7 linked regions of the Homo sapiens genome follow. The protein of the gene in region 1 interacts with the protein of each later gene in a pairwise test. Each region holds a gene or a part of one and is shown in the gene's direction. Other genes may lie near its edges. The genes, in order: CCNC, RPA2, PLEKHO2, RBM41, CRX, GLYR1 and FOXR2.

Region 1 (3,500 bases):
TTTAGCCAAGATCTTGCCACTTGGCAGTTCTTTATATCCATCTTCCTTTTACATAGCTCCGCTTGGCATCCCACCAGCACCTCAGACTCATGATGAGGATTGAGCTTATCACTTTGCCCCAAAATATGTTCCTCCTTTTAATGTCTTTGCCAGTTTGGTGAATAGCACTAGTTATATACCTTAGTTGGAAACCCAGCAGTTAGGCCCTTTCATCTCCCTCAATACCCACATGTAGTTGTTTACCAGTACATTTTGTGCCTTCCTCTCGATTGTTCCTTCTGTAATCTCATAGTCATCTTCTCATTTCTATCCATGTTACCACAGCAGTCTCCTAACTGGCTTATTAGCCTCCAGCACTCCCATCCTCAGAGAGCCTGTCTATCTTCCAAACTGTTGAGCTAGGCTAGTGGTTTCACCTGGGGATAATTTTGCCCCGAGGGGACATTTGGCAATGTTTGGTTTTAGTTGTCATAACTAGGGTAGGGTGCTACTAGCATCTAGTGGGTAGAAGCCAGGGATGCTGCCAAGCATCTTGTAGTATTCAAGACAGTGTCAAAGAATTGTTCAACCTAAGATGTCAGTAGTGCCAAGATTGAGAAACCCGGAGCTAGCCAAATTCGTCTCCCAATTGATATACATACTATTCTCTTCTCCCACTCTCATTTTTTTTTTTTGTAAGACTTGGCTTAGATATCAGCTCTTCAGTGACCCTCCCCCACCCTTTCAGCATCACCTCAGTCTGGGTTTAGGATGCTTCCTCAATCTTCAGTGTACTCTATGCATGCCCATGTTAATAGCATTGTCCACTGTATTTTAATTTCCTGTTTTTATCATGTCAGTCATTTGGTTTTTTTTAACCTCTTCTTGACCTAAGCCCTACTCATAGCTTTGCTTGACTTAGGGCAACCAGTGTGTCAGTTCACATTTGAGTTGCTATTTGCCTAGAATGTCATCCTTAGCAAAGACATGGATAACCAGACCACGGAGTATAACTTAAGCTGGAGTGGGTTAAGGGTATACAGGCTGCTCAGTAGAAATTGTTTTAGGCAAAATTATGATGTAGATTCCTCTCTTTTGTTAGTTTATATTGTATATAACATATATAACTAATATTGTATACAGTATATTACATTTATTTTCTAACCTTTATTTGATTACAACACTGAATTCTGTAAGGATGTGCCCAGCTTTCACATAACTTGATCATGTGCTAATAATGAAAAGGAAGAAAAAAGGCCAGGCAACACTGCTTTTAACTGAAATGTGGAAACACAGTCAACATTGTTAAAACCTAGTATATTAATTAACATTTTTGTTTGTTTTGTTTTGTCACACTGACTTCTGGGTGCAGTTTAACGGCTACTTTGTACACTACTCAGGGATAACTTCCCTTTTCTGCTCTCCTCATTGGATGTTTTTCCTCTTTAACGTGCCTGACTCTCAAGGCAACTGCACCATGACTAGCACGCAGTGAGGACCAGATGTCAAGAACTTGATGTAATCTAGTAATTTTTTCTGTCTCGGATTACATTGATGAGATGGTCAGTGGTAACTCTCATATGTAGCTGTTTAATGTTTTTTAAAGAGTGTTGGAAAATACACAGGAAATAGTGAAAAATCTTTGTTAGATCATATATTCTGTGTTTGCAGTTAAACATGGACAGTTGTCTCTCATTTTCATTTCAGCTTGCCTACATGTAGCCTGTGTTGTACAGCAGAAAGATGCCAGGCAATGGTTTGCTGAGCTTTCTGTGGATATGGAAAAGGTATTCCCTTAGTTGTATGTAAACTTGGATGTTTAAAAATTAATGTCATATTTACTTATCATGAGCCTAAAATCTTGTGATGTCCACCAGGCTAAGAAGATTATTGGTTACAAAATATTAAGAAACATGGGCTGGGCATGGTGGTTTGTGTCTGTAATCCCAGCACTTTGGGAGGCCTAGGTGGGCGGATCACCTGAGGTCAGGAGTTCAAGACCAGCCTGACCAATATGGTGAAACCCCGTCTCTACTGAAAATACAAAAATTAGCTGGGTGTGGTGGCATGCACCTGTACTCCCAGCTACTCGGGAGGCTGAGACAGAATTGCTTGAACCTGGGAGGCAGAGGTTGCAGTGAGCCAAGATCGTGCCACTGCACGCGAGCCTGGGCAACAGAGCGAGACTCCGTTTAAAAAAAAAAAAAGTTTGGTAGGAAGAGTTAATGCTGATTATTTAAGTTATGTATCTCTTTTCAGTTTAGGATTAAACAGAATGGTAAACTTTTGGTTTAATTGGTTGCAAAGTAGCCTCTCATTCCCAGGATTATTTTAAAAGCTCCCTGGTAACCACTGAATACTACTGTGAACTTCTGTAACATAGCCTATCTCCTGGCAGAATGGCTTTTGCTGTGTTTCTAGCTTTTCTGCTCAAGTGTTAAATGCATTAAAATTAATCCTAAGGTTAGGTTCTACTCAGGTGGGAAAAAAATAGCTAATTTGTTAACTAGTTGTTTCAAATTTGTAGCTGCCAGTTTTTGAGCACCTTAATGTATGTGTAGTAACAGAGAATCAAAACATCTTTTGTGCACTACCCCCGATTAAGTTGTTTAAAATAATTTATACTAGAGGAGTGTGCTCTATAGTGGTATATTCCCTCATGATTAGAACCTTTATTCTTAGTATGTTTCAGTTTAAAAGATACCATCAGATGGAAGGAAATCAGCTGCAGAGATAGATAAGAATGGACAATGCACACATGCTGAAAAATGAGATGCTAGAAGGAAAATCCTAAACAGCACTGTGGTGAAAAATACTGCTTTCAAATTTATCAGGATTTAAGGACAGAGACTATTTACTGTTTTCTGAGGGTTGTGTAGTGATGTATGCTCTTTATATAAAAAATGTTGCTTGTTTTTGCCACTGAGAACTTTTCAAATATTTTCTTCTAGATTTTGGAAATAATCAGGGTTATTTTAAAACTATATGAGCAGTGGAAGAATTTCGATGAGAGAAAAGAGATGGCAACCATTCTTAGTAAGATGCCAAAACCAAAACCACCTCCAAACAGGTACTTTGTAGACTTTAATTATTGATGTCATTTAATCATATATCATACTTACTATATTTTTCTTAGATTATGTTGTTTTGTAGTTTTTAAAACATTTCTTCCAAAACTTCATGATCCATGTTAATTTTATTTTTTAAATTTGTGATTTGATTGAGAATGTCTCATTTAAAAAAATCACTAATCTGATTAGTAACTTTTCCTAATGCAGTGGAGGTATATTACAGGTATCTCTCAACATATGGTCATATACCATAAATTTAAAGCTGACAGAATTAGGTAAGTTCATCTGAAATTCAGGGCAGAATTCAGAACTATAGTAGTTTCATGTCAGTTTGATTCTGTGCCATCTTTTTTTTTTTTTTTTTTCACTGCTGGCTATTGTCCTGTTTTATAAATTTCAGTAGCAATTTTCAAAAATTTCAATGAATGATCTGATATTGTAAAGATAAAG
Region 2 (3,500 bases), on another chromosome or scaffold:
CTCTATTCTGATTTTCTTGAGGTTGTGAAGGAGAAAACAAGGTAGATGATTGGTTCTCATCTTTTCTTCCCAAGCTTAACTATTTTTCTCCATTCTGGTTATTATAATTTTTATCTCAGAATTCCTAAAAGCTGGGTATTAAGATAGCTTTTCAGAGAATAATGCTTGTAAGTTGGAGACTCAATCCCAGTCTCTGAATTTTTTTTTCTTTTTGTGGAGACAGGGTGTCACTATGTTGCCCAGGCTGGTCTCAAACTCTTGGGCTAAAGCAGTCCTCCCACCCTTGCCTCCCGTGGTGCTGGTATTACAGGCATGAGCCACCACACCCGGACAGTCTTTTTGTTTTTATTTTTATTTTTTTTTTGAGACAGTCTCTCTGTTGCCCAGGCCAGAGTGCAGTGGAACAATCTCAGCTCACTGCAACCTCCACCTCCTGGGTTCAAGCGATTCTCCTGCCTCAGCCTCCCGAGTAGCTGTGACTACAGGCGCATGCCACCATTCCTGGCCAATTTTTGTATTTTCAGTGGAGACGGGGTTTTGCCACGTTGGTCAGGCTGGTCTCAAACTCCTGACGTCAGGCGATCTGCTCTTCTTGGCCTCCCAAAGTGTTGGGATTACAGGTATGAGCCACTGCGCCTGGCCTTGTTTTGTTTTTAAATCTAGTATTTTCCACAGTTAAAAGTTAGGTAAACGCCCTATTCTTTTTTTCTTTTAAAATTGAGACCGTCTCACTTTCACCCCCGCTGGAGTGCAGTGGTGCAGTCATAGCTTACCACAGACTCTTAACTCCAGGGGTCAAGGGATCCTCCCATCTCAGCCTCCCAAGTAGCTAGGATTACAGGTGTGCAGCACCATCCCTGGGTGATAAAGAACTCTATCCAAAATGTTTCCTGTTGATTATGTATTTGTTCAATATGATTGAACCATGTGAAGTTTCAAATAGCGACCCAATTTTAATCTGTAATAATGGTACTTTCCTGAAGTACTGTCAGAGTAGTCTGTGGTTCATAGTCAGCTATGAAAATTTTTTTAGTTTGAAAGTGTTTTTGTTTTTGTTTTTCCAAAATTAAGCATATTTTTATTGACACTTTGTGAACCTCTTTGGAGCAGACTAGGAATTCCTTGTGATCAATTCCTACATAAAATATATGCTCAATAAAAAATAAATACTTGATTTGAGATGAATTTGAAGGCATTGTTAACATCTCAACTGTTACCTATATGTAACATTTTTACCTGAGAGGTAATAATATTTGTCAAACATCTACTACATGTAGAGATTGGTATTAGCACTTCATATATGTTATGTGTCTCATTTACAACTTAAGAGGTGTATATCCCCAGTTTTCAGAAAAGGTGGTCATGTGTCCAGGACTTTGGAGCTGGGATTTGAGCATGGGTCTACAGGACTCTCTGGCTCCAAACCTCATGTTCTTGCCACTTTACCTTACTGGTTCTTAAGTTTTCTTATGCTGAAGATACAATGAAAATCTCAGCTGTGATAGGTAAAAACAGAAATATAGTAGTTTGTGAGAGGTAAATCCTGGGACCCCTGCAAATTTTAAGACTATAAATATTAACATAGCATGTAACTTTACCTATAAAATACCATAAAGTAAAATTGAAAAAGTTGATCCTGTCAACGTTGTTATTAAAAGCTATTGCAAATGTAAAGAATGAGGAACAATAGCTAATATAATAATAGCTAAAATTTGTTATTGAGTGCTTTGTGCTGGGTAGTATTCTGAGTCCTTTACCATGTAATTTTTATAATATCATTCCTAGTTTTGCAGATGAGGAAACCGAGGTACAAATGAGTTAATACATGTGACCAAGAGCGACCGCTCTTTTTTTTTTTTCTCTTTTTGAGGAGAGTCTCTGTTGCCCAGGCTGGAGTGCAATGGTATGATCTCGGCTCACTGCAACCTCCGCCTCCCGAGTTCAAGTGATTCTCCTGCCTCAGCCTCCCCAGTAGCTGGGATTACAGGCATGCGCCACCACACCTGGCTAATTTTTTTTTTAAATTTTTAGTAGAAATGGGGTTTCGCCATGTTGGCCAGGCTTGATCTCAAACTCCTGACCTCAAATGATCTGCCCGCCTCGGCCTTGGGATTACAGGCGTTACCCACCACGCCTGGCCAAGCAGCTGCTCTTGAGAATAGAGCCACAATCTTAACCCTCAAGCTTGGCTGCTGCCTTTTGTGGCATATGTGCCAGCGGTTGACTGAGCTTGCTTTATCCTGTTGTGGCAATACTCACCATTCACAATCATGCTTCAGCAAAATGAAATATTGGCAGTGTCGTGGATGTTCAGGTCAGAGTTGCGACTGCTAAATCCATGAAGGCCAAGAGTCTACTGTGTTCTAAGTCTTCCATGTAGTACAGGTATTGGTCCACTTCCTCTTGGCTTCTGACAGGAAGAGCTCTCATCGTTTTTGTGCCTTGTACATATTCCCTCTAGGAGACTGGGAGTACATACTTGCCCTCAGCCTGTTACCTGCTACTTTTTCGCTGTTGAAATTCTCGTGCTTCAGAGTTCAGCCTAAAGCCTCCCTCTTTTGCCAGTAAGCTTTTCTGAGGTCCCACATGGCATGTTTCATTTTACAGTGTATCAAGATCAGGTTTATTGTTTACCTTTGTACCTCCCCTAGATTAGGAATATGTTGAGGGTAAATCCTGTCCCATCATATTCATCTTCATGTTACCCAGACTACCTCTTGCCACTGGTAGGCAAAAATAAGTTTACACTGTTGTCTGGCTGCTTTAAGATATGATTTGGGCCTGGCGCGGTGGCTCACGCCTATAATCCCAACACTTTGAGAGGCCGAGGTGGGCAGATTGCCTGAGGTCAGGTGTTCGAGACCAGCCTGGCTAACATGGCAAAACCCCATCTCTAGAAAAAAATAGAAAAATTAGCTGGGCATGGTGGCGTGCACCTATAATCCCAGCTACTCGGGGGGGCTGAGACAGGAGAATTGCTTGAACCCAGGAGATTGAGGTTGTAGTGAGCTGAGATCGCGCCACCACACTCCAGCCTAGGCAACAGAGTGAGACTCCATCTCAAAAAAAAAGATATAATTTGAGTGTGCTCACTAGATACTGTTCTGCCTACCCTATCCTGCCTCTTCCCCCTAAGACGTCCAACATGAGTCCAGCACAGTGGTTTATGTGTGTCATCCTAACACTGGGAGGCTAAGGTCGGAGGATCACTTGAGACCAAGAGTTTAAGACCAGCCTGGGCAACATAGCAAAACCCCATCTCTACAAAAAAAAAAATGTTTTTTTAATTGACTGGATGTGGTGGTGTGCCTGTAGTCCCAGCTACTCAGGAGACTATAGCAGGAAGATTGCTTGAGCCCATGAGTTTGAGGCTGCAGTGAGCTGTAATGCCACTGCACTCCAGCCTGAGTGACAGAACAAGACCCCATCTCAAAACAAAATTTGGCCGAGGGCAGTGGTTCACACCTGTAATCCCAGCACTTTGGGAGGCTGAGGTGGGC
Region 3 (3,500 bases), on another chromosome or scaffold:
CCCACCAGACAGGGGACTTATCTTATACAGCGTCTCTGTTACCCACCTCAGACTGAAGGTTGCCCTGGGGCAGAGCCTGTGCTTCCTCTCTCTCAATGCCCCGGCACAGGACTCTGACACGGTGGATTCTTAGTAGAGTTGGGTCAGAACATCACTGGGTTTTGTCAAAGAGCAAAGGTTGTCATAAGCTTCCTGGGATGTGAGGTGCCAACCAAGTTTCTTCTAGTCTCTGTCTCTCGTAACCTGTGTTGTGGTTCCATCTGTCCCCTTCTGTGTACAGAGTTGAGGTGACCTGGCTTCTTTTTTTTTTTTTTTTTTTAATGAGTGATCCAAGGGAGGCAGGCTGGTGCCTAGGGGTGCCTCAGGAGCTGCTCACAGTGGGCAGGAAAGGGCCTGGGTGAGGAGGGATGGGAGGGGAGAGGGCAAAACAGGAAGAACAGCGGTCAGCTGCTCAGTGAGGAGAGGAGGCCGAGAAACTGGGCTGAGCAGGACAAAACCTCCCCTGTGAACCCTGCCAAGGGGAGGGGCCCCTTATTAAAACTTACTGGGGCATAGCCAGGCCCCCCTGGAGGGAGGGGGTCTGAGGGGCAGGGAAGGGGGCTGGGTGGAGGCAACTAGGACTCTGGCCTCCAGCCAGTCCTCCCCTGGGTGGCTGTTTCTGTGGCTGGGCTGTGGTTCACACCATCTGTAGCCCTTCAGTTGTCCCCTTCTCCATACCAAAGTGCTGTTTCGCCTAGTCCTGCCCTGGTCCCATTCATTCTTCAAGGACCTGGACTTGTTTCTGTAGGTAATCCAGTCACAGTATTCTCTAGGCTACATCAGCCCAGAAGTGACAGTGATCTAGGCACAAGTTCCAGCTGTGGCCCTAGGGAGCTTCCAGAGGGTAGAAAGTTTTCAGGAGAGGTCATGAGTGGAGAGAGTTTAGAAAGGGGTGTGAGATCCCTTGGGGTGGTGGGTGGGTCCCCTGAAAGCAAGAGGCGAGCTTGGAGCTCAGAGGTGGGTGGCTGGGCAACAGCTTCACACTCCACAGACCTCACTGCCTTGTTTAAGAGAAACCAAGAGTCTGCCCATCAGGTGGAAGGCCTGGCAGGGGCTGGTGGTGCTGTCCTTGCTGTTGCCGTTGCAGTAGGAGGGTTGTCAGTGTGAAATGTGGGGGTGGGGTTTCCCATTTCCCTGTTCTTCCCTTCTAGCCCTGGGCCTATGACAGCCTGCAGGGCTCGCTGAAGTAGTGTTAGGGCCCTGGGGGTGTCAGTGGTGATGTGGGGAATGGGAGTTGAGTGCATGATGGAATGGGAGAGCCTTTCCCTTCTTGTCAAAGGGTGCTGAAATCCCTCTTCTCCTGGACAGGGTGGCTCATAATCGGCCAGCCTTCTACTTCCTTGTTCCTATATCTGGGAAGACCTTTTTTTTTTTTCGGAGACAGGGCCTCATCCTGTTAACCATACAAGAGTCCAGTGGTGCAATCTCGGCTCACCACAACCTCCGCCTTCCTGGCTCAAGGGATTCTCCTGCCTCAGCCTCCTGAGTAGCTGGGATTACAGGCGTGCGCCACCACCGCCCGGCTATTTTTTGTATTTTTAGTAGAGTTGGGGTTTCCCCATGTTGGCCAGGCCGATCTCAAACTCCTGACCTCAAATGATCTGCCCATCTCGGCCCAAAGTGCTGGGATTACAGGCATGACCCACCATGCCTGTAGAAGAAGACCCTGGGAAGATCATTTGGACCACCCCACTTCCCCATTTCTCTTGCCATCTACAAGTTAGGGAGAGACCCCAAGGTGGGACCCCACATTCCTGGAGCTCCTGGAGATCTGAGGCCAGCAGCTATAGACCAGAAAGGGCTTGTCCTGACTTGGGAACTGGGCCCAGGGAGAGGGTCCCTGAGAGCCAGAGAGGATGGCAGTGACAATAGTAACAATAATGACAGCTGCCGTTTACTAGGTTTAGGGCATCCTGGGAACTGCTCTATATGCTTTGTCTTTACTCAGCAACAAATGTTTATTGAACACTTACTATGTGCCAGTCACTGTCTAGGAACTGAGGGTACAGGAGTGAACAAAACAAAAATCCTGCCCTCGTGGAGTTGGATTCCTTACAACTTCTGCTGTTAGTAGCTGCATTTCACAGATGAAGAAACTGAGGCTCAGAGAGGTTAAGTGGTTTGCTTCAGTCTGCATGACTGCAGCTTCTAAGCCCAGATTCCCCACCACTAGAATGCGCAGTTCAAAAGGGGGTGGGGGCCCACAGTGAGAACCAGGCTGGGGTTCCCCTGCCATGACAGAGACCAGGGAAGCCAGGTCTTCCCAGCTCCTGACAGTGCACCACGCTTACATCTGTCTGGGCTTGTTCTTCCAAAGGCAGCTGTGGCCACAGGATATCCCTGGGGAGAGGCACACCTCTTTTAACTGGGGCCCCTTTTTTGAATTTTATGTAAATTATAACGTAGTCAAAATTAGTCCATGCTAATTTCCTTCTAGCAGCCTCTAGATTCTGACACATTCTTGATCCCCTCTCCTTCACCCCCCACTTCACACTCACGACTCTGGGTACCTATCAGTGAAGCAAAGTGGTTAGCAAAGGGTGTGTATTTTTATTTTCATTTCACGCGTACCTCTTGAGCACCCATTATGTGTAAAAGAACAGGGCTGGGTGCTGGGGACCCAGAAGTGGATCTGACCCCAACCTTATTTGGTAGGCATGTATCTGGCACCCAGCCACCCAAGCAGGCAATCAATGAGGCACAAGATGTCAGTAGCTGGCCCCAAGGCTCCAGGGTGTCTACCCAAGTCCAAGAGAAGGGCTTGAATTTAACTCCTGTGCCAGCCTGTGGTCAAAGACAGAGTCCTTGGAACCCTCACCAGATGTGGTGGCCACCCTAAGGTCCTTGCCTGGAGTGGGGAGGAGGGGAGAGGAGCCTCCTGCTTTGGGTGGGAAGCGGAAGGGGCTGCAGAGTGGGTTCTCTAGAAGCATAGCGGTAGAGAGGCAGATTGCCACTCAGCCTGCCTGTCCTTCCAGTCTTTGTTCTGGGTGGCCTTCCTGGGCCACCCCAACCTGAACTGGGTCCCCCACTGTCCTCTCGCTGCCCTTTGTGTGTTTCCTGTATAGCATTTCACACAGGTTGATGGGTATGCCTGGGTATTTATTTGTTCAGCTCCTATTTTCCCGCACTGTGAGCTCTGAGGACAGAGACTGCCTTACTTTTATTCTCCTGTGATGTTGTAAGCACTCAGTACATTTGTTGACTGATTGAATGAACACATGGAAGCAGAATGGTGGAGTGGGAAAAACGTGGGGTCAGAGAGACCTGCTTTGAATTCTGGCTCTGTCCTCTAGCAGTGGTTTGCCACTCTGTCGAGTCATCCTCCATTCTGAGCTTTAGTTTGCTATGACATGTGGATAATGAGGCTACCATCTTGGAGGGGAGTTGTAAGAGTGAAATGACACTATGTGTATCAAATGTTATACAGTGGCTCAGAGTAAAGTGGCTGCTGCTATTATTGT
Region 4 (3,500 bases), on another chromosome or scaffold:
ATTTAGTATTCTCTTAGTTTCCTTGCTTTCAGAAACAGTGTTCACATCTTCAGCCATGTATGGCATTCCCCATCTTCTGACAATGAGCCTCAAGTTTTCTACCAGGATTGGCAAGTTATCTTTTACCCCATAGCATATTGTGAGGGAGGGTATTTAAAAATCATATTGGCTTTTAGACAGCCTTCAACTGATTTGCCTTATTTTAACCCCATCCCTTCACATTTATTTCTGAAGGTAAGTGAAATTATCAGTTCCTGAACTATTTAAGGATTCTTAAGTGGTGACAGGTGTGTTCTTGGCTCTCTCCACTACCAGTTTAAAATTCAGCTTTCTTCAGTGTGCTGAGTTGGTTCCTGCTCATCCAATTATTTTTCATCTTCCAGATTATTATTGCTGTTGTCTCCTTTTCTTGTTCCTCCTGACCTTGTTGATTTGTGTTTTTTTTTTTTTTTTTTTAAGTGCCTATAGTTTTAGAGAGTTTTCTGGATGGAATGAAATTAAATGAATGTGTTCAATCCACCATTTTTATGTGAAACTAATTCTAATCATAATGAAAGAGTTTTCTTACGGCTGAGCATGGTGTCTCACGCCTGTAATCCCAGCATTTTGGGAGGCCAAGGCGGGTGGATCACCTGAGTTTGGGAGTTCAAGACCAGCCTGGACAACATGGTGAAACCCCACGTCTACTAAAAATACAAAAATTAGCCAGGTGTGGTGGCACATGACTGTAATCCCAGCTACTCGGGAGGCTGAGGCATGAGAATCACTTGAGCCTGGGAGGCCAAGGTTGCAGTGAGCAGAGATTGCGCCACTGCACTCCAGCCTGGGTGACAGAGTGAGACTTTGTCTCAAAAAGAAAAAAACAAAGAGTGCCTTACCTCCTTTATATGATATTTTGGTTGATCCTCAATTTGTTTTAGGTATTATACCTGAAGAACCTTAGCCCTCGGGTGACTGAAAGAGATCTTGTGTCATTGTTCGCTCGGTTCCAGGAGAAAAAAGGACCTCCAATTCAATTCCGAATGATGACTGGACGAATGAGGGGCCAGGCTTTTATCACCTTTCCCAGTAAGTAGTTTCATCCAGATGATTACTCAGTTGCCCCTCAGTTCGCTAGAGATTACCTATAACCTCTCTAATTTAGATATAGTCCTTTGATTTCTCCACAGCATGTGAGAACAAGACAATGAACGAAAAATATGTTTTCAGTGTTTCTTTCTGTTTCCTCTCCTCCATTGACAGTGCATGGCCACACTACCCCAGTGTCCTCAGTTTTTCCCAGTCTTGGTACTTCCTTCTTACCCTACCAAAATCTGTACTCCCTTCACTGACAATAGTATTTCTAGTCCAAGTTATAATTAGATTACTCATTAATTAATGTATTAGTATTCTGATCAGAACACATGTACTTGGCTTATGCGCTGTTCCTTTAGGACTAAGTGAGAGCAAGCTAATATACTAATTTATTACTAATTCATAATTAGTAGATGATGATACAGTCTTCTAAATATTATTTGCATATTAATTAATGCATAGCTTCTAATCCAACTGGAAGAATAATATGCAAATTTCAGTTTCTATGACAGACCAGATAATATGTTGTTTTGGGGGAAGGCTTTGTAGGATCTGTACCTTTCATTGTCCCTAAAGTATCGTCATTTCTAAATAGCCTATTAATCTATATGTGGGCAAGTGGTTTTACACATGAATACTGCCAAACTCCCCTCCATTGTTTTCATACAGTCTTGTATCATCTTTCCTATCATACTGAAGGTTTTTAAATCCGCTATACCAGTGGTTTTCAGTCTTTTCAAGTGTAAGAACCCCTTTTAAATTTAAAAAACCGTTTATGGGTGCCCCACATAATACGATGTATTAGTTGAAAAAATACATAATAAAAAGGCTTTTTAAAGCAAGTACTTTAAAATGTGTAGCTGTTTTACTAATCTTGAAAGCTATACACTTAAAAAAATTTGTAGTACTTATATATATGAAACAAAATTGGTTTAGTCTACTTGTCTACTTAGGATTCCACAAACTCCTGGCCACAAATCATCCCTTCCTTATTTCTTACATCCAGGCTCTTAGACCCATAAGTTGAATACTCCTGGCATGTAGTATATATTCTCACATTTCAACCTTCAATATGCCTACAAGTGTTCTTATACTTATTTATCCCAATAAGGTGGCCCAGAACCACTCTCCCACTGAAAAAAAAGTGGCAAAGTGCCCTTGATAACATGATAACTTCTTTTGTGTTACTCATTTTGAAAATGATTGATTCTAATAATACCTATAATCTGTTACCTAAGATAGAGACTTGTGTATAATTACTAATAGCTTAGACTTCTTTAGCACGCTGCCTATGTCTTTGTTTCTCTACTTGTTTCTTTGAATTAGGAGACACCCTCAAACACCGATTTTGAGTTTTTATTGTTATTATTTTTGCCATTAATTTAATTTTGCTTAATAATGCAAATGGGAGATTATAGAAAAAATGATCAAATCAAATGACTATATGGCCTTATAGCTTACATTTAACTCCAAGGCAAAATAATCTAAACTAAACCTGGAATAGAATTGAATTATTAAGTCCTATGTAAATTGAAATTTTTTCTTTCTCTTTTAGATAAGGAGATAGCATGGCAAGCATTGCATCTAGTAAATGGATACAAACTACATGGGAAAATATTGGTGATAGAGTTTGGAAAGAACAAAAAGCAACGGTCAAATCTCCAAGCGACTTCTCTCATATCATGTGCTACAGGTAGCACTACAGAAATTAGTGGTAGCTAGAATATATATAAATTGTGGGTCCTGGATGGTCTTTCTTGAATTGGAATCTTGGATCTAGGATTTATGTATAGACACCAGTTTGTTTGGAGTTGAAGAGGAAAAACTAACTGAGGGAGGGGAAAAAAGTAATTTCAGCTTTTGGAGAGAACTGGTAGAAAACATTTTCTATTATATAATTGAAGACTATATAGGACAGATGATATGCTGAGTATGAAGGGTAAAGTGCAAAGAGTATTATTTTCTCAGGATGAATTACAACGGATTATTCCTAAGGATTTTTAAAAATCTTTATAATTTTTCTGGGGTCCTCAATATTTGTCTCTAGAGATAACATTCTTTCTTAGACTGCTTCGTATACACAGAAATAAAAAACTAATTAAATGTTGAAATATTTCTTTACTAGAGCCCATTTGCCATATTTCATCCACCTAGTAAATAAAAGAGTAGGACCCCCAGGCCTAAGCATCAACAAATGCTATTAAGTCAGAACTATCAGCAGTAATAGTAGGTAGTTTCATAAGTCAGTTGACTTATTTAATGAATGCTTCCTCCACAAGTTATCAGTCTTCAAAAAGCTATATATTTTTCTAGTGAAATATTTTAGATCAAAATGTTGGTGTTCTCACAGCCATTTAAGCTAGCAACCATTGAGTATCATTGAATTCATAGCAATAAACATTGATTAAGTGTCTAATATATGTTAA
Region 5 (3,500 bases), on another chromosome or scaffold:
ACATTCTTTTTTTTTTTTCCTCCCCAGGAGACAGGTCCTCTTTCGATTGATTGATTTTTTTTTTTTTTTTTTGGGATGGAGTCGTGCTCTGTCGCCCAGGTTGGAATGCAGTGGTGCAATCTCAGCTCACTGCAGCCTCCGCCTCCCGAGTTCAAGAGATTTTTGTACCTCAGCCTCCCCAGAAGCTGGGACAACACCATGCCCGGCTAATTTTTGTATTTTTAGTAGACGGGGTTTCACCACGTTGGCCAGGCTGGCCTTGAACTCCTGACCTCAAGTGATCCGCCTGCTTCAGCCTCCCAAAGTGCTGAGCCACTGGCCTGGCCTGTTTTGTTTTGTTTTGAGAGAGGATCTTGCTCTGTTGCCCAGGCTGGAGTGCAGTGGCTGGATCATAGCTCACTGCAGCCTCCAACTCCTGGGCTCAAGCGATCTTCCCACCTCAGCCTCCCAGAGTGCTGGGATTACAGGTACGTGCCACCACGCCCAGCCCTCACTGGAGGCCCTTCTGTCATCAGCTGCCTCAGGTTGCTGCCAAACCCAGGGAAAGATTTCAGTGGATGTTCAATATTATTATTGTTATTATTCTCTGCTGACATCTTGTCTAGGCAGCACTTTATCATTATTATCAGCTGTTTGATCTGGGGCCCACACTTTCCTCCTGCTGAGCCTCCTCTCCCCTATCCGTTAAAAGGGATGATCCTGGCCAGGCACTGTGGCCCACGCCTGTGATTCCAGCACTTAGGGAGGCCGAGGTGGGCGGATCACCTGAGGTCAGAAGTTTGAGACCAGCCTGGCCAACATGGAGAAACCCAATCTCTACTAAAAATACAAAAAAAAAATTAGCCAGGCATGATGGCACATGCCTGTTGTCCCAGGTTGGGAGGCTGAGGCAGAAGAATCGCTTGAATCCGGGAGGTGGAGGTTGCAGTGAGCCAAGATTGCGCCACTGCACTCCAGCATGGGTGACAGAGACTCCGTCTCAAAATAACAACAACAACAAAAACAAAAACCCAGAAAGTGGTGATCGTAAATGTGAGCTTTCTTGGCTTTCCTGGAAGGTTAACTGCTTAGCCAGGCAATCTGACTCAGATTTGACGGCGAAGACAATGAAAGTGTGTGCTTTTGTTCCAGGCCCTGCAAATGGTCCCCAGTGGGGCAGGTTCACCAGTTTCCTTGTCTCCACTCTCTGGAGGTTCATATTTAACATTATTGGTTTTTGGAGAAGTGGGAGAGGACAGAGGGAACCCAGGTTAGGGGGCTGGGGGAATAGGACCTTCAGGAATTACTCTAGCCTTGAAATCCTGGATTCTCCACTGCCAGCCTGTGTGTGATCCCGGGTAAGTCACACTTTCGAGCCTGAAGATGTTCTCTAAACTGTAAGCATCAGGCAAAAGCAGTGTCTCATGCCTGTAATCTCAGCAATTTGGGAGGCTGAGGCAGGAGGATCTGCTCAGGCCAGGAGTTCAAGACCAGCCTGGGCAACATGGCAAGACACCTCTCTCTACACAAAAATTTAAAAAATTAGCTAGGCGTTGTGGCACACCTGTAGTCCCAGCTACTTGGGAGGCTGAGGTGGGAGGATGGCTTGAGCTCAGGAGGTCGAGGCTGCAGTGAGCTATGATTGTGCCACTGCACTCCAGCCTGGGTGACAGAGTGACATGCTGTCCCTAAGACCAAAACCAAAACCAAAATGTAAGCATCATAGTAATACAGTCTCTACCTCCCAAGGTTGTGCTGGGGATTTAATGACTACCTGTATAGAGAAGGCTTGTGTATTAGTTAACTATTGCTGGGTAACACTTATCCTAAAATTGAGCAGCTTCAAACAATAAACATTTCTGATCTCTTATAGTTTCCAAGGGACAGGAATCCAAGAGTGGCTTAACTGGATTATTCCGGCTCAGGGTGTTCCATGTGGTTGTGGTCAGATGTCGGCCAGGACTGAAGTCACTTAATGGCTTGGCTGAGGCTGGGGAACTAACCTCCATGGTAGCTTACTCTCATAGCTGTTGGCAGGAGGCCTCATTTCTTTGCCACATAGACCTCTCCGTGGGATGGCTTGAGCATCCTCACAACATGGCGGCTGGCTTTCCTTAGAGCTAGCCTTGGAAGCCACGCTCTGTCATTTCTGCAATATCCTGTTGGTTACACACGTCAGCCAGCTTGTTAGTAGGGACTACACAGGGCATGAATATCAGGGGGTAAGGATTATTGGGAGTTACCTTGGAGGCAGTTTGATTTTGGGGATTTAATGTAGCTGCTTTTGATTTTATTGTCAGCACTGAGCCTTCTCGTGACATTCCTACCAGGTTTTACTTGTTCTTTCTGCTTTTCTCCATGATCAATCTGCTATGGTCACACAGGGTGCCTTGTTTCTTCTCCAACAAGACCAAGTTGGAGACCCTGTCTTGCTCAGGGTGACGGTGTGAGATTCCAGCCTCCAAGCCTTTGCACCTGCTGTTTTTTTAATTTTTTTTTTTTGCCTGGAAATCTCTATTCCAGATCCACACAAATTCCTAGATGCCTCACCCACCCCAAATGCCTTCACTCTCATAACAACCTGTTTTATTTTCCTGGGAGTTCTTGAAACTTTCTGAAGGCTTTTTTTTTTTTTTTTTTTTTGACAGAGTCTTGCTCTGTTGCCCAGGCTGGAGTGCAGTAGTGCCATCTCAGCTCACTGCAACCTCCGCCTCCCGGGTTCAAGCGATTCTCAAGTAGTTGGGATTACAGGCACCCATCATCATGTCTGGCTAATTTTTGTATTTTAGTAGAGATGGGGTTTCACCATGTTGGCCAGGCTGATCTCAAACTCCTGACCTCAAGTGATCCTCATAACTCAGCCTCCCAAAGTGTTGGGATTACAGGCAAGAGCCCCTGCTCCTGGCCATGGCATCTTTATTAAAAAAAAAAAAAAAAAAAAAAAAAAAAAAAAAAAGGCAGGGCGTGGTGGCTCACGCCTGTAATCCCAGCACTTTGGGAGGCCGAGGCGGGTGGATCACATGAGGTCAGGAGTTCGAGACCAGCCTGGCCAACATGGTGAAACCCCATCTCTACTAAAAATACAAAAATTAGCCAGGTATGGTGGCAGGCCCCTGTAGTCTCAGCTACTTGGGAGGCTGAGGCAGGAGAATCACTTGACCCTGGGAGGCAGAGGCTGCAGTGAGCCGAGATCAAGCCATTGCACTCCAGCCTGGGGGACAAGAGTGAGACTTCATCTCAAAAAAAAAAAATTTTTTTTTCCTTGTTTGTTATTGGTTTCTCTAGGAACGGAACCAAGAAGTTCAATTCTATGAGAACAGAGAAGCTGCGGTCTTATTTCTTCCTATATTCCTAGTTCCTAGAGCAGGGAAGGCATTCAAAAAATATTTACTGAATGAACAGTAGAATCTCAACTTAAAATAAACAGAATCTGTCCCCCTCCTCATGTGAGGGATGAGAAGGAAAGGACAGTGAGAGGAACGGAAGAGTGGGAGCTCACAATAAACACCATCCATTTTTAA
Region 6 (3,500 bases), on another chromosome or scaffold:
ATTCAGGTACCGGTTCCACCTTGCTCCCTGATTTGGGCAAGCTATTTCACCTTTCTGAGCCTCTGTGTCCTCTACATAAGGGGATGATACCCCCTACCTCATAGTTAGGAAGGAAAAGTAGTATCTCTTGTGTAGAGTGTGGCTTGCCATACAGCAGGTATTAGCACACATTGGTCCAGGATGCCTTTAAGTATGGAAAACTGAGAGAGATGGAGACTCTCCCTATGGGAGAGAGAGAGAGTGTGTGTGTGTGTGTTTGTTTGAAAAGAAAGGAATATGAGAGTTGGAAGTTCCTAAAGGATGTCAGCCAGGTTTGCTCTTTTTACCAAAAAGGCTTTGAGTACAAAACCATGCATCATTCCACCTTTATGTAAAACTGTATGCGCCTCATCAGGAATACTCTATGGACTTCAGATCATGCTTTCAAAGGGATCTCTTAGAATTGGCCAAGATCCAGAAAAGGGAACTGAGTCAGACAAAAGAGCAGGACTCTTCAATGTGGAAAAGCAAAGACTGAAGGAATCACGGGATCAGGAGGTAGGAAACAGCGAATGGCCTAGAGGAGTTTGGCGATGGGCACTGCAAGTGGATTGTGGTATGACTGTGTTAGGACCAGGGTGAGGAGCACTGCATAAAAGGGGCGTTTAAGAGGTGGTGTAAACAGGTATTGCAAGGGGATTTTTTAGGGATGAGAACTAACTTGTGAAGACAAAGCCATAAGTGGCTCCTGTAGAAGCTGGACTGCACCTCGCCTTTAACACTTGACATCAGGGAGGGGGCATGTGGTCCAGGCACATCCTGGGTGGGGGCACCATTGGTTACTGGACCCTGGCCCAGGTGGATAGGGTCTGACCCAGTGGAGTGTCCTCCGTTCCTGAGAAATACAGGATTTGGTCAAAGATGTTCAGTTTCAAAATTGACACACTACTTAGGCAAAAAAAAGTGTAGTTATACTTTTTTAATATTTGCAAGGTCTTTTATTAAAGAGCAGAAAGAACGGCTCCTTATGACAAGATAATCAGTGATTACAATCTTTTAGAAACCTGATTTTTCTCTCTCCACATCTCTGCCAAAATATCTAACAAATTGTGTTGACATCCCACTGTTAGGAGAGGGCCAGACCTTCCTAATCAGGTGTCCTGGTGAGAGGAGGACTTCTTTATACGGATTCGGCTCCCTGAGCGAGATGGCCAAGACAAAACTGCCCACGTAATTTTTGTATTTTCATGGAAATACGAAGGGGATATAATTTCAGCAAAACCCTGCCAGCTTCACTTGGTGACTACAACCAAAGATTATGTGTCAAGTGCACGAGGGTCCCTCTCTGACAGGTCTGATTAGTGGTGACCCCCCCATCAGAGTAGAGACAGAGCTCACGGTTTAAAAGTTTCATCGGGGCCAGGCGTGATGGCTCACACCCGTAATCCCAACACTTCAAGAGGCAGAGGCAGAAGCATCACTCAAGCCTAAGAGTTCAAGGCCAGCCTGGGTAACATGGCAAGACCCATCTCTACAAAAAATTTAAAAATAAAAAATTTAAAGCTACCATGCCGGCTTGTTCTCACCTTTATACTCTATGCTTGTGTGTGTGTTTGTGTGTGTGTGTGTGCTTTTTCTCTGTCTGTCTCCCTCCCCCTGCCATCTTCTCCCCGCCCTTTCTCCTTTTCTCTTTCTCTTAGCTTCACGGCTTCAGCCCAGGTCACCTGTCTATCCGAAGGCTGAAACACAGGTGAGAGGGTTCATGCGTAGTAGCATGTACCTGTAGTCTCAGCTACTTGGGAGACTGAAGCAGAAGGATCGCTTGAGCCTGGGAGGTCAAGGCTACAGTGAACTGTGATTGAGGCACTGTATTCCAGCCTGGGTGACAGAGCAGGACCCTGTCTTTTAAAAAAGAAGAGTTTTGGCCAGGCACGGTGGCTCACATCTGTAATCCCAGAACTTTCAAAGGGCAAGTCAGGCGGATCACGAGGTCAGGAGATCAAGACCATGCTGGCTAACATGGTGAAACCCCGTCTCTCCTAAAAATACAAAAAAATTAGCTGGGCGTGGTGGCGGGCACCTGTAGTCCCAGCTACTCGGGTGGCTGAGGCAGGAGAATGGCGTGAACCCCAGAGGCAGAGCTTGCCGTAAGTCGAGATCGCGCCACTGCACTCCAGCCTGGGCAACAGAGTGAGACTCTGTCTCAAAAAAAAAAAAAGAAAAGTTTCATCAGTGGCTGTGGATGATGATGGAATGGAGGGAGTGTTCATTTAAATTACAGGTGCTTAGAAGCCACCAGAAACCAACCGGTTCAACAGATTGTGGACAAACAGTGGAGAAGCTGCAAGTGCCTACCTGCGAGTTTCCATAGCAGTCTTCCCCTCCAGTCCTCACAGCAGCCCTTTCAGGAAGTGCACAGGGTCATCTTTCTGGTTCTTATTTTTTCACAGATGAGGAAACTGAGAGACCAGTGGTCCTTTTCCACCAAGCCACATCTAAGGTGGACCGGTCTCGCTGGATGTGAGGTGTCTGAGTCAGTACTGAAAGTAGCTGCTCTAGAAGAATATGTGGTTAATAATTAGAAGCATAGCAGCTTGGAAGCATCCCTTTTTCGTTTCACCTGGCACCTGATTTGTGTGTGTTTTTTTCTGGTGCCTTTATTTCTGAAGAACTTGGCCTGTAACACCTCAGTAATCTTCAGCCCCTTTGGATGGATTTTTTTTAAAAAGGCACCCATAGAAATTGTTTACTAAGTATTCACCAAATCCAAATGGAGAAGCAAACCCACACCTTCTGGCCCCATCTTTGTTCTCACCTGTATTTTTATTCTTATCTTTATTTATTTATTTATTTATTTATTTATTTATTTATTTATTTTTTGAGATGGAGTCTCGCTCTGTCGCCAGGCTGGAATGCAGTGGCACGATCTTGGCTCACTGCAACCTCCGCCTCCTGGGTTCAAGCGATTATCCTGCCTCAGCCTCCGGAGTAGCTGGGATTACAGGCGCATGCCACCGCACCTAGCTAATTTTGTATTTTTAGTAGAGACAGGGTTTCACCGTGTTGGCCAGGGTGGTCTCAATCTCTTGACCTCGGCCTCCCAAAGTGCTAGGATTATAGGCGTGAGCTACCGTGCCGGCTTGTTCTCACCTTTATACTCTATGCTTGTGTGTGTGTGCTTTTTCTCTGTCTGTCTCCCTCCCCCTGCCATCTTCTCCCCGTCCTTTCTCCTTTTCTCTTTCTCTTAGCTTCACGGCTTCACCCCGGGTCACCTGTCTATGTGAAGGCTGAAACACATGTGACAGCGTTCAAGATTAGTCATAGGCTGACATCTTTAATATACAGTATCTACATGTATGATTTTCTTTTTTTTTTTTTAAAGACCAAGTCTTGCTCTGTCGCCCATGCTGGAGTGCAGTAGCACGATCTGCACTCACTACAACCTCCACCTCCCGGGTTCAAGCAGTTCCTGCCGCAGCCTCCTAAGTAGCTGGGATTACAGACGTGTGCTACCACAACTG
Region 7 (3,938 bases), on another chromosome or scaffold:
AATAGAGAAGATTGGTATAGTTAGTAAAAGCATGTGTTCTGCAGTCAGGTTGCCTATGTTTGAAAGTCAGCTCTGGCCTTTACTAGCTCTGTGACTTAGGCTTTTTTGTGCCTTATGTTTTTTACTCTGTAAAGGAAGAATAATAAGAGTACCTACTTCATAGGATTATTTTGAAGATTTGAGTTAGAGTGCTTACAGCATTCTGTAATAATTAACAGTTGGTACAACTGTTGTGTTGTTTTTTGTATTTATGCTGTAGAAAGACAACTCAGGCCACTTGTATGAAAGATTAGAGTAGAAGAGAACCAGAGTATGGAAACAATATGGAGATTAAAGTGCCTCTCCAATAGCTCCCATTGACATTTGCTGGATATGTTTGCAACATAGTCCTATGTAGTGATTTTAATGATATCGCATACTTTACACATGGATTTTGTGCAAACTGAATTAAAGGAAACCTTGCCATTTTATTTTTCTTACAAATGTCCTGGGTGTGAACTTACTGGAAATAGAACCTCTGGGGCTTTCAGGACCTTGCATACTGTGGCTAAATTTTGGTCCTACTGTTCAGAGTATAGTTCAGAACTCATTTCCTAAGAAGGTGACCTGGAGAGAGGAAAGCCAGCTGTTTCCCAGAAAAGGATTGAAAACGGCAGCAAGGTTAGATTCTAGTATCAGTATGAGAATAATAGAGGCCATGTTCTGATAGTTACCATCTTACTATAAAACTCAGGTTGCACATATTACTGCCTGTTGTATATCGTATGTTGAGTATGATCAAGAGGCAATGCGTATAGTGAAAATAAAAGATCTGGGCTGTGGATCTAGCTCTCCTACTTACTCATGTCTGTATATCTCAGTTGCCATGTCTGTGACATGAGGATAATAATACCATGTTATCTTGCAGGGCTGTGATGAAAATCAGTTGAGATCATCTATGTGAAAGCACTTAACCAAAATCCAAAGGCACTCGATGAATGAAATGATTTTTAAAACCATTAAGGAAGACTCAGAAATATAATGTGATCTATACATATGTTTGTCCCTTCCTTAAATGAACTCATCAAGGGTTTAAATATGTGCCAGATGATCACCTATTATGCAAGTCACCATAGTTTGCACATAATTCAGTTTATAATTCCTCTTGAAGTGACTTTCTGCTTCCAATCAAAGCTCAAGAATTCCACCTAAAAATGTTTTTCTGCTCAAAAGCTCTTTTTTATTACTTCCATGTTTTGAGCCTTGTTCCAGAAAGCTGAGGTTTCTCCAGGTCTGACCACTAATCAGTGAGACATTGGTGCCTCTTTCTTCAGTGCTTCTAGCAGGCCTACTGATAAGCTCCCTAGATGAGATACACTGCATAAAAAAATGATGCCCAAAGGACAGCTTTAAGTGCCTGCTAGATATCTGTTCTTTCAGAAGTCTCTCTCCACCTATCTCTCCAGTAAAGATGGACTTAAAACTAAAAGACTGTGAATTTTGGTATAGTCTCCATGGCCAGGTCCCAGGGCTGCTGGACTGGGACATGAGGAATGAGTTATTTCTGCCTTGTACCACAGACCAGTGCTCTTTAGCTGAGCAAATCCTTGCCAAATACAGAGTCGGAGTAATGAAGCCCCCAGAAATGCCTCAGAAGAGGAGACCCAGTCCTGATGGAGATGGTCCTCCCTGTGAACCCAATCTGTGGATGTGGGTGGACCCCAATATCCTGTGCCCCCTTGGCAGCCAGGAGGCCCCAAAGCCCAGTGGAAAAGAGGATCTGACAAACATTTCTCCTTTCCCTCAGCCCCCACAAAAAGACGAAGGGTCTAACTGCTCAGAGGACAAAGTGGTAGAGTCTCTGCCATCTTCCTCCAGTGAGCAGTCTCCTTTACAGAAGCAGGGTATCCATTCCCCCAGTGACTTTGAGCTCACAGAAGAGGAGGCTGAGGAACCAGACGACAACTCCCTCCAGTCCCCTGAAATGAAATGTTACCAGAGCCAGAAACTATGGCAAATCAACAACCAAGAGAAGTCCTGGCAAAGGCCCCCTCTCAATTGTAGCCACCTTATTGCCCTAGCATTAAGAAACAACCCCCACTGTGGCCTCAGTGTGCAGGAGATCTACAATTTCACCCGACAGCATTTCCCCTTTTTCTGGACAGCTCCGGATGGCTGGAAGAGCACCATTCATTACAACCTCTGCTTCCTGGACAGCTTTGAGAAGGTGCCAGACAGCCTTAAGGATGAAGATAATGCAAGACCTCGCTCTTGCCTTTGGAAGCTCACTAAGGAGGGGCACCGCCGCTTTTGGGAGGAGACTCGTGTCTTAGCCTTTGCTCAAAGGGAGAGAATCCAAGAGTGCATGAGTCAGCCAGAGTTGTTGACCTCTCTCTTTGATCTTTGAAATGCCATTGCTCCCTTTTGGAACACTGCCTTCCTTACTGTGCCTACTTATCCCCTGACATTCATTAATCTCTAAACTTACCCAGCCTGGTTGGTGCCAAGTCTGTCTTTAGCTACTGTTACAATAATGGTGTTAAGTAAAGTTAGAGGTGGGTACAGGGGAGACAGAACTTAAATCCAGGTGGAGAGTCATGGAAAGTCGCACGAGGAGAGTGGCTGTTGTTCCAAATTTTGAGCAAAGGAAAAGAAATCCTAGAAACAATGGCATAGAAACTAAGGAAAGAAGGGTGTGTTTTGTGAAAGAAAGGAATTTTGTTTATAGAGAGTATTTTCACACATGAAAGTGAACAGTGGAATATAAAGCATAAAAGGCAGGATGGAGCCGAGCCATGGAGAACCTCGAGTGCCATGTGAAGAGAATTTGACTTGTGATGAAGAATCAAGTTTCCCCTTCTACCATTCATCAGCTACATCTCCTTTTTAAGTAACCCATTTTATCCTTCAGAACCTCACTTTTCTATTTCTGGCCCTGGACTTCTAAGCCTTGTTTCTTTGTCATCCAATTCCAATATTGACAAATAATTCTAAACAGCTACTTTTAGTTTGTATGTTTAACGTCCTGTGAAATATTCCTGTATTAACCCCAAGCCTTTTGATGATAAAGCTTTATTTTCTATTATTTTTAGTTCTCAAGATTTTATTGAGGATATGCTAATGTGTCAAGGTCCATCTTAGATGCTGAGGATAAAAAGCTGAGGGATACTAGTGGGAGACATATTTATAATGTAAATATGATGAAACAGATGTGAGAAATTGACATGGAAATGGGGAGACATTCTTCCTGGGAAAGACATGAAAGGGCATTGGAAAAAATACATTTTGAGCTAGTTTTGAAGAATAAATGGCAAACTGGAGTAGAGGCATTACAGAGACAACAATGTGAACAAAGTGGATGGAGTGTTTGGGGGAATGGCATGAAGTTCAGTGTGACTTAACTACATGAGGACCGTGAGTGACTAAGAGAAAACTATTAGGTGTTTGGACTTCATCTTGTGGGTTTTTAGGAGCCAAGAGACATCAGTGGAGTTTTGCTAAAAAACAAAAAAAGAAACAAGCCAGCAGCAACAACAAACACTACAGCATTTGTTTTTCTAATTTCAAAATTATCTTTAACATCTTTTCTATGCAAATAAACTTTTGTTTATCAGATTTAAGCATAGCTTTTTGCTTCAATGATATTAACATATATCCAGGAGAAAATAGATTTTTAGGTATAAATTTAGTTGCAAAACCTTCATAATGGGGGTACAAAAACGCCTGTAAGCTACAAAAGCAATTAATTCAATATAATTGTAACTATTTTCAAAGTTCACATTTTTATAATGATGTATTATACCTCATACAAAATTGTATATTTAGGTTAAATCACAAAACAACATATGCAAACAGTATTTTTTGAAAAAAATTGTAAATGCTACTTCTGTATCATAAGGCAAAGACCAAGTTAACAGAATACCTTGGAATTAATAAAATATTCTGCATATAAGTAGTCA

The links.
Region 2: the proteins of CCNC (region 1) and RPA2 interact in binary tests that used the Homo sapiens proteins (3 or more experiments, as listed by UniProt).
Region 3: the proteins of CCNC (region 1) and PLEKHO2 interact in binary tests that used the Homo sapiens proteins (3 or more experiments, as listed by UniProt).
Region 4: the proteins of CCNC (region 1) and RBM41 interact in binary tests that used the Homo sapiens proteins (3 or more experiments, as listed by UniProt).
Region 5: the proteins of CCNC (region 1) and CRX interact in binary tests that used the Homo sapiens proteins (3 or more experiments, as listed by UniProt).
Region 6: the proteins of CCNC (region 1) and GLYR1 interact in binary tests that used the Homo sapiens proteins (3 or more experiments, as listed by UniProt).
Region 7: the proteins of CCNC (region 1) and FOXR2 interact in binary tests that used the Homo sapiens proteins (3 or more experiments, as listed by UniProt).

What each region holds. Positions count from the first base shown.
Region 1 is NC_000006.12:99,544,661-99,548,160, reverse strand, and holds part of CCNC (cyclin-C), read left to right. Parts: intron 1-1,686; coding exon 1,687-1,766; intron 1,767-2,930; coding exon 2,931-3,049; intron 3,050-3,500. UniProt on the Homo sapiens protein: Component of the Mediator complex, a coactivator involved in regulated gene transcription of nearly all RNA polymerase II-dependent genes.
Region 2 is NC_000001.11:27,908,076-27,911,575, reverse strand, and holds part of RPA2 (replication protein A 32 kDa subunit), read left to right. Parts: intron 1-3,500. UniProt on the Homo sapiens protein: As part of the heterotrimeric replication protein A complex (RPA/RP-A), binds and stabilizes single-stranded DNA intermediates that form during DNA replication or upon DNA stress.
Region 3 is NC_000015.10:64,844,915-64,848,414, forward strand, and holds part of PLEKHO2 (pleckstrin homology domain-containing family O member 2), read left to right. Parts: intron 1-3,500.
Region 4 is NC_000023.11:107,066,823-107,070,322, reverse strand, and holds part of RBM41 (RNA-binding protein 41), read left to right. Parts: coding exon of another isoform or gene 1-133; exon of another isoform or gene 134-920; coding exon 921-1,068; intron 1,069-2,629; coding exon 2,630-2,796; 3' UTR 2,797-3,500. UniProt on the Homo sapiens protein: May bind RNA.
Region 5 is NC_000019.10:47,824,937-47,828,436, forward strand, and holds part of CRX (cone-rod homeobox protein), read left to right. Parts: intron 1-3,500. UniProt on the Homo sapiens protein: Transcription factor that binds and transactivates the sequence 5'-TAATC[CA]-3' which is found upstream of several photoreceptor-specific genes, including the opsin genes.
Region 6 is NC_000016.10:4,837,289-4,840,788, reverse strand, and holds part of GLYR1 (cytokine-like nuclear factor N-PAC), read left to right. Parts: exon of another isoform or gene 1-537; intron 538-1,109; exon of another isoform or gene 1,110-1,546; intron 1,547-3,500. UniProt on the Homo sapiens protein: Cytokine-like nuclear factor with chromatin gene reader activity involved in chromatin modification and regulation of gene expression. Acts as a nucleosome-destabilizing factor that is recruited to genes during transcriptional activation.
Region 7 is NC_000023.11:55,622,262-55,626,199, forward strand, and holds FOXR2 (forkhead box protein R2), read left to right. Parts: upstream 1-1,138; 5' UTR 1,139-1,450; coding exon 1,451-2,386; 3' UTR 2,387-3,931; downstream 3,932-3,938.